Linked DNA regions of Homo sapiens: region 1 is linked to region 2. The links come from fine-mapping of genetic effects on gene expression. Tissue or cell type: uterus. Region 2 holds a variant in brackets; the other region holds the start of a gene. All regions are shown on one strand. Distances are between the middles of the regions. Region 1 holds the start of POFUT3 (protein O-fucosyltransferase 3). Region 2 overlaps POFUT3 (protein O-fucosyltransferase 3).

Evidence for each region.
Region 1: POFUT3 starts here. The variant in region 2 is fine-mapped to the expression of POFUT3 in uterus (GTEx, PIP 0.96).

Annotation. Positions count from the first base shown.
Region 1 is chr8:33,471,007-33,475,407 of GRCh38, forward strand. POFUT3 (protein O-fucosyltransferase 3) reads right to left here and starts at 2,140. Exons shown (of 5, transcript NM_032664.3): 1 at 2,058-2,140. RefSeq lists silencers at 360-409, 1,640-1,879, 2,170-2,249 and an enhancer at 1,110-1,319.
Region 2 is chr8:33,417,801-33,422,201 of GRCh38, forward strand. The region is part of intron 3 of POFUT3 (protein O-fucosyltransferase 3); the gene reads right to left. Among named protein-coding and RNA genes, the nearest start is that of POFUT3, 53 kb to the right of the region's middle. The variant G/T (reference allele first, on the strand shown) is at 2,682.

The DNA of each region.
Region 1 (4,401 bases), 53 kb after region 2:
TCCTTGTTGGTAATTCTGTATAATCTTTTGAAAACTCCAATTTCATTATCAAAGAAAAAAATCTGAAAGACATTTTAAGATAAACTTAACTTCTAAAAATGTTCAAAAACCCATGTTCAGAAACATTGTAACAAATGTTCACTGTAGAATGCTGGTAATTGAATTAGATATTGAATATCTACCCGAAATCAACTCTTTACATTCCGAGGTTGGTTTTTTTGTTTTTGTTTTTTGTTGTTGTTGTTGTTGTTGTTTTGTTTTGAGACAGTCTCGCTCTGTTGCCCAGGCTGGAGTGCAGTGGCGCAGTCTTGGCTCACCGCAACTTCCTCCTTCCAGGTTCAAGTGATTGTTCTGTCTCAGCCTCCCGAGTAGCTGGAACTACACGCACACGCCACCACATGAGCCCAGCTAATTTTTGTATTTTTAGTAGAGACGGGGTTTCACCATATTGGCCAGGCTGGTCTAGAACTCCTGATCTCGTGATCCGCCCGCCTCGGTCTCTCAAAGTTCTGGGATTACAGGCATGAGCCACCGCGCCCGGCCGGCCTACATTCCAAAGTTTAAAGCATTTAAATATGGGTTGGAAATATCTGCCTACTGAACAACATTTGTACATATATAAATAACATTGTTTTTCCAAACTATATTCTTTTTACTTCCTGAATTTAACCATAGTTTGAAATTTTTCAAAAATATTGTTTGTAAGATAAAACTTGAAAACTTACTTTTTTTTCTTATTGTAGAAGACAAGCAATAACAACACAGTAAAAGTTGAGATCGTGTTTTTAATTCACTGTTACACACTGCCATCTAGCAGGAAGCGAGCAAGAGTTATTACAGCAATTTCGAAATTGGAAGACCTGAATGATCACCTGAGGCTACCCAATCGCCTCTGGCTTCTCCTTACTCAGAAGAAAGTTTTAAAACGGAGACTACGGTGCTGCTAGATTGGAGGCAGTGAAACTTCAGCGTTCAAAGAGCTGAGCTGCTTATTCAATGCGAGAAAGGCCTCCATTTGAGACTACGGTAGACCAGGGAGAAACCCTGCCCTAGTTGTAGTGTGACGTTACTAACAAGCCCAAGATTGGTCGTGAGTTTCCTGGGTGTCTCATTGGAAAGAAAGGTGTACGAAGGGAATAAAGTCCTGAAAGCCAACTTGCCTTATTCAAAACTGTGGCCAGCCAGAGCTGGATGCATTCCACAAACTAAATTAACAATCCAAGTCATTTCATGCACAAAACACTCTAACCAACTATTATTGCAGGGAGCTGCAGCAGGGAGCAGGGGGCAGGCTGTTGGGGCCGTGGTGTTAGAAAAAGTCATTCTGTGTGACATTTGCTTTATTTTAAAGAATCATTAAAAGATTCCCAGAAAATGTCATAAAATCACAGAAAAATTACTTCTATAGTTTACAAAAAATGAGCTCTGTTCTGAGGGTACTAATCGGGTGCAAAATACCTAACACATGGCTTGCAAATGGGATAACCCAGGCCTGCGGTTGCCGGTGCTTTCCTGGGGCATTTTCTCCATTAAATACGCCGTATTCTCTGCAACTAGAAAGTCACAGTTGCTACGACTTCAACACAACATTCCTGCAACAAGTGATTCTCTGGGAAGACCTGGGGGAGAACAAGGCAATTCGCGCCCCGCAAAGGCAGATTAGGTTCTGGAATGGACGGCCGCGGACCTGGGGAGGAGGCCGATCGGGGCAGGCGGGGAGGCGCCGGGACCCCGCGCTCCTTCTCCGGGCTCCAGCAGAGGCTCCGGCCCGGCACCCGCCTCCCGCCTGGTGGATCAGGCTTCAATCTCAGGCAGTGGCTCTGCCTTTGCGCCACTAAGTCTCCAAAACAGACTTGGATTATTTTGCACACACCATTCCGTCTCTTACACGCACCCCCTGCTCGGTACAGAGAGGGAGTTTCCTTAGGCTGTGACTCCCGGAGGTAGTGTCCCAGCTTCCGTGGGACCAGAAAAGCGTCTTTCCGTGTCTCAGCATCAAGCCCCTACCCCCACCAAGAGACCACAGAGGCCAGATGTGATGCGGCGCTCGCACTCACCTCGCGCGGAGCAGGGTTCGTCCCGCAGAATGCAGCGCAGCTTCCTTTCTCCCTATGAGCCCAAGCCTGGGCGCCGGGAAGACCCGAAGAGCCGATCAGGAGCGGAAGAGGCGGCCGCGCGGGCGAGCTCGGGGCGCGTTCCGGCGGAGCCAGCCTGGATCCGGGTTTTCACTCGTGCCCTGTTCACAAGCTCTTGGGACCCGGGTTCTAAGAACACCGGGCCGCCCCCTGCTGATGATCTTGGTTCGCAGTCCGCCTGAGGCCACGGCCCTATGGAAAGTTCTCGGGAAGGCTGCGGGGGCCCTCTTCTTTAAGACAGGGGAAACTCTCCGCTTCTCCAACTGGACTAGGACTGGAGCGCATGCAGTCACCTATTCAGGCCAGGCGTGGCAGCGGCTCACACCTGTAATCCCAGCACTTTGGGAGGCCAAGGCGGGCAGATCGCTTGAGCCCAGGAGTTCGATACCAGCCTGAGCAACATAGCGGGACCCTGTCTCTACAAAAAATGCAAAAATTAGCAGAGTGTGGTGGCCCATGCCTGTAGTCCCACCTACTGGGAGGCTGAGGTGGGAGGATCTCTTGAGTCCAGGAGGTAAAGGCTGCAGTTAACCGAGATCAAGCCACTGCACTCCAGCCTGGGCAACAGAGCAAGACTGTCTACAAAAATAAATAAAATAAATTTAAAAAAAAAGGTCAAAGTCATTTATTCAAGAAAAGATTGTACTGGTTGCTATGGTGTGAATGTTTGTACCCTGCCCCAAATTCATATGTGAATTTCGTGCCTTTATAGTCTATATAAATTTACAAATGTACTGTGTCTTTATGAAAGAGACCAGAGCAAGCTTCTGCCATGTGAGGACACATAGAGGGTCTCTTGTATGAGGCACAGACGCTAACAGATGAGGAATCTGCCAGCGTGTTTGTTGATCTTGGACTTCCCATCATCCAGACTGGGAGCAGTGGAGTTCCGTTGTTCATGCATTACCCAAACTAAGGTGTGTTGTGATAGTAGCCCAAACGGACTAGACACTGGTAAAGGAAAGCTAATTGACTTCAAGCTACTGAGTTCCAAATCCAAAAACTCAAATAAAATTATTGTGCCCTAGTCTAGGAGGTAATAAACCTAAGGAGGTAATTCAGCATTTTGGGAGGGGTGGGTCTAGGGCAAGGCAAATGAGGTACTTAGGGCTCAAAATCTGAGGAGGTGCTGACCCTGGGTGTCCTGCAGTGCTGGGTGCACTGCAGAAGCCTGAGAGCGATTTGCTGTTTCGGGCCTGCCTCCCTCTGGTCCCGACCCTGCGGAGCTCTGGTGCCAAGAAACTCAACTTTTCTATGAAAACAGGTTGATAATAATGGTGTCCACATCTAAAAAACATCAAACACACAGAAAAGATTGATAAATTAGATATGATTAAAAGTAAGAAACTCTATTCATCAAAAGACACCATTAAGAAAATAAGAAATGGGTGCAGTGGCTCACACCTGTAATCTCAGCACTTTGGTAGGCTGAGACGAGAGGATCACTTGAGCCCAGGAGTTGGAGACCAGCCTGGACAACATAGGGAGACCCCGTCTCTACGAAAAATTTTTAAAAATTAGCCAGGTGTGGTGGTGCACGCCTATGGTTTCCGCCACTCAGGAGGCTGAGGTGGGAGGATTGCTTGACCCTGGGAGGTCAAGGCTGCAGTGAGTCAGGATTGTGTCACTGCACTCCAGCCTGGGCAACAGGATTAGATCCTGTCTCAAGAAAGAAAAAGAATGAAAACTGATCTACGGAATGAGAGAAGGTATTTTTGATATATTGTATCTAACAATGAATTTAGAATATAACAAGAACTCCTAAAAGCAATAAGAAAGAAAAGCAATCAATAAGTACAGCACTTCACCGAAGACGAATCCAAATAGCCAGGCAGTATGTGAAAAAGATGCTTAATGTTTTTAGTCATTAAAGAAATGCAAATGAACACGATGATGATATATACTACACATCCACTAAAATGGCTACAGATTTTAAAACTGACAAGACAACACAAGGACAAAGCCGTGAAGCACATAGAACTGTTATGCACTATTGTTGGGGGTGCAGTTGTGACAGCCACTTTGGAAAATCATCTGTTCATATTTACTAGAGCTGAATATACACGTTGTGACCCAGAAATTCCTAGGTATAGGCCTAATACACATACCTATATATAAACATCAAAAGGCATGTATACTGGGCCATAAAACACACCTCGGCAGGGCACGGTCGCTTACGCCTATAATCTCAGCACTTTGGGAGGCCAAGGAGGGCGGATCACCTGAGGTTGGGAGAGCGAGACCAGCCTGACCAACATGGAGAAAC
Region 2 (4,401 bases):
CTAAGGCAAGAAAGGAGAAGGAAGGCAGGCAGCCTGCTCAGCCAGGATCAGCCGGAAGCCCAGAGAGGCTCCCCAGTGCAAGGAAGGAGTTGCGGAGAGAACCCCAGGGGTCCACATTCCCACTCTGAACTCCCGCAATCCTAGCCATGCGACAGCACCTCACCCTCACGTGCCCTGATACTAACACTGGGAGCTGTCTGGAGACTGTATGACCACACTGTTTCAGAGAGGGAGCTCACACCGGGGTCCAACCCACGCCCAAACCTAAGCGGCTACAGCAACGCACCATTTTGAGCCCCCAGCCCCCAGCAGACTGCATCCTACACTGGAATCCAACAGCCCCTGCAGTTCCATATTTGTGGCACCCCAGTGATATCCCCCTTGCTGGCTGCTGCCCTGGGGCCAAAGCATGAGCCACAGACAATGATCCCACTGGCCCCACAACCACCACCGCTGAACCATAGCACAGCCTCCACGCACTTTCACCCAACTGGAGGACAAAATGCAAATCAAAACCACAATGTGTATCATCTTATGCCAGTTACAACAGCTAAGATTAAAGAGACAAAAAATAACAGATGCTGGTGATGATGTGGGAAAAAAGGGAACTCTTTTTTTTTTTTTTTTTTTGAGATGGGATTATAGGCACGCACCACCACGCCCAGCTAATTTTTGTATTTTTAGTAGAGACAGGGTTTCACCACGTTGGCTGGGCTGGTCTCGAACTCCTGGCCTCAGGTGATCTGCCCACCTCGGCCTCTCAAAGTGCTGAGATTACAGGCGTGAGTCACCAAGCCCAGCTGAAAAGGGAACTCTTATACACTGTTGGTGGAAATGTGAGTACAGCCACTATCAAAAACAATATGGAGATTTCTTCAAAAACTAAAAACAGAGCTACCATGTGATCCAGCAATCCCACTGCTGGGTATCTTTCCAGAAGAAGGGGACTCAGTATGTCAAAGCAACACCTGCACCCCCGTCTTTACTGCAGCACTATTCATAATAGCCAAGATACGGAATCAATCTAAGTGTCCAATGGATGACCAGATAAAGCAAATATGACACATATACACAATATAATACTATTCGGCCATTAAAAAGGATGAAATCCTGTCATTTGCAGCAACATGGATGGAACTGGAGGTTATTAGGTTAAGTGAAATAAGCCAGGCACAGAAAGACAAATATTACACGTTCTCACTTATATGTGGGAACTAAAAGAATTGATCTCATGGAGGTAGAGAGTAGAATGGTAGCTACCAGAGGCTGGGAAGGTTGGGGGTGGGGTGGATAAAGAGAGGCTGTTTAATTGGTACAAACACAGAATGAGGTAGAAAGAATAAATTCTAGTGTTTGATAGCAGAGTAGGGTGACTACAGTTAGCAACAAATTATTGTATATTTTGAAATAGCTAGACTAGAAGACTTGAAATGTACCTAACACATAGAATAGTAGAGGTGATAGATACCTTAAATCAGCAGTCTCCAACCCTTTTGGCACCAGGGACTGGTTTCATGGAAGACAATTTTTCCACAGACTGGGGTGGTGGGGGATTGGTTTTAAGATAAAACTGTTCCACCTTAGATCATCAGGCATTAGATAGATACTCACAAGGAGCAAGTAATCTAAATCCTTTGCATGTGCATGACAATAGGGTTCATGCTCCTATGAGAATCTAATGCTGCTGCTGAGCTGACTGGAGGCAGAGCTCAGGTGGTAATGCTGGCTCACCCGCCACTCGCCTCCTGCTGTGCAGCCTGGTTCCTAACAGGCCACGGACAGGCCCTGACGTTGGGAACCCGTCCCTTAAATGCCATGACTCCCTGACTTGATCATTATACATTCTATGCATGTAACAAAATATTACAGGTTCCTCATAAATGGGTACAAATATTATGTATCGATAAAAAGAAAAGAAGGAGGATGGGGACTGCAGAACAATGTTTTCTGGGGGAAAAATAAAGTTGATACATTATGTAATATGTTAGGTCATTTATTTAAACTTCATTTATTTATTTAAACTTCATTTATTTATTTAAAGTTTATGGCCAGGCATGGTGGCTCAGCCTGTAATCCCAGCACTTTGGGAGGCCAAGGCAGACAGATCCCTTGAGACTAGGAGTTCAAAGCCAGCCTGGTCAACATGGTGAAACCCTGTCTCTACAAAAGATACAAAAATTAGCCAGGTGTGGTGGCACACTCCTGCAATCCCAGCCTCTCTCGAGGCTGAGGTGGGAGGATCACCTGAACCCATGGAGGTCAAGGCTGCAGTGAGCCATGATCACGCCACTGTACTCTAGCCTGGGAAACAAACTGAGACCCTGTCTCAAAAAATAAATAAATAAATAAAATGTATGTACTTATTTATTACATATATGTGTGTGTCTCATATATCTAATGGAACACTGTTAAAATAAAATTAATGATAAGTAATTAATAAAAACTAACAAAAATTTAAGAGAGAATTATTAGTTTTAGACAAATAAAATATACAAAAAAATGTAATTGCTGGTTCTATGTTGAGCAGTATTTTCAAAGTCTTAGTAATATGAACAATGCTGGTGAAATGACAAGGTTTAAAATTTGTTTAAAATAATTGAGAGGAGGAAGAGACAGTGTGGGAATAATTAAACACGAATGAGAAGACTGATGGTTGTTGAAGCTAGATGAAGACTAAATGG[G/T]CATTCTTTATATCATTCTGTCTGTTTTGTTTGCATAAGAAAATTGCCAAAATGAAAAGTTTCAATTATAACATCTCATTGTAAACAATGATTTCTGATGTAATAAAATTGGACTACATTAGATAGATTTGGGGGGAGCAGAAAAATGTATCTGGGGAAATTCATTAAAAACAAACCAAATAATCACTTGCCTCAAGAAATATAAGTATGACAATTACAGCTAGATAGAAGGAATAAGTTCTCATGTTCTAAACCACTCTAAGATGACTATAGTTAACAATAATATATTATACAGTTTCAAATAGCCAGAAGGATATTGAACATTCCCAATACAAAAAAAAAAGATAGATGTTTGAGATGATAGATTTGCTAACTACCCTGGTCACATTATATGTATCAAAACATCACTACGTATCCCATGAATATGTAAAATTATTTGTCAATTTAAAAAGAGAAAATTAAATTTAAAAAAAGAAAAAATATATATATGTTCATATTAAATAGAAATACAAATGTAAATTCAGAAGACACTATAGGAAAGACAGGTGGGAAGAAGAAGGGACAAGAACTTCCTTTTTGTGAAAGAAATGTTAATACTATTTAATTTTTAAAATTTTTATCAAATTATTACTTTGATAAATATTAACAAAATTCTTCATCCTCAAGATATTTTTTATGATGACATATAATTTGAATATATTTTCCCTTTATCTATGGAATGAAATGAAAAGACTTCAGAGCTGACATTTGAATTTTAAAAAGCATTAATTGGAAATGGGAATTCAGTCTTGTTCCATTGCAAGGTTTTGCTATATGCACTGCCCTCTAGTGTCACTTTGTGGGACAAGCATCTTGAATTTCATAAACTAGAAATTTAACTAAATCTTCAAATGCCATATTCTCTCTTCTTGGATCTTCCATCTCCTCCATGTGGTCATATCCTATTAGGATATGACCTACGACCCAGAATTCAGGGCAAGGCTACTAGTTTTATAGGATGGTTCGTTATGGATTCAAAAGGTTTTAATGGGAGGGCCTTGGAACCTGATCTTGATTAATGGGGAAATGTGTCTGAGTTCTAAACAAATGTTTATTCGCTTGAGGGAAAGAACCCATCTGTTTGTCTTTGACTCCTTGAGAGTACTGTACATGCCTCGAATCAAATGCAGTGCTGGACAGAAGTCTGATATGCGGTGGATGCTCAAAGGAACATTAAGTGAGTCTGGCAATGACTGTTCAGAACTCGTTTTGTTATTTGGAGGCAGTCTGAAGTATTCTTTTAAGCATGAAATGCCATAAAGGAGAGTGATCATTGTCATCATTAATAACTGCCCAAGCCAAATCTCTAATGAATATGGACAAATCAACACAGATTATAGAATCTAAATCATTTCTGGAGGGGAAAATGGAGAGATTAATGGGTGAAAGGCCCACCTTGATGCCTTCCATCACCTCCTAAAAGGAAAAAAGAACAAACTTTTTAGGCCAACTTCCCTAGATCAAATGGTTTTTGTCTAAAAAAAAAACAACCACACAGAAAACAAAAACAAAAACAAAAACAAAAACAAAAAAAAACCCTGCTTTTCCCTCACAGTCTTTTCTTTGCAATGAGAAGAATGTATTTTCTTCCTCAGCATTATTTACTTTTTGATAAAATCACATATTTCTCCCTGCCAAAATTCTGACACATGTTCAGTTCCAAGATGTTCTTCCTTTGCTA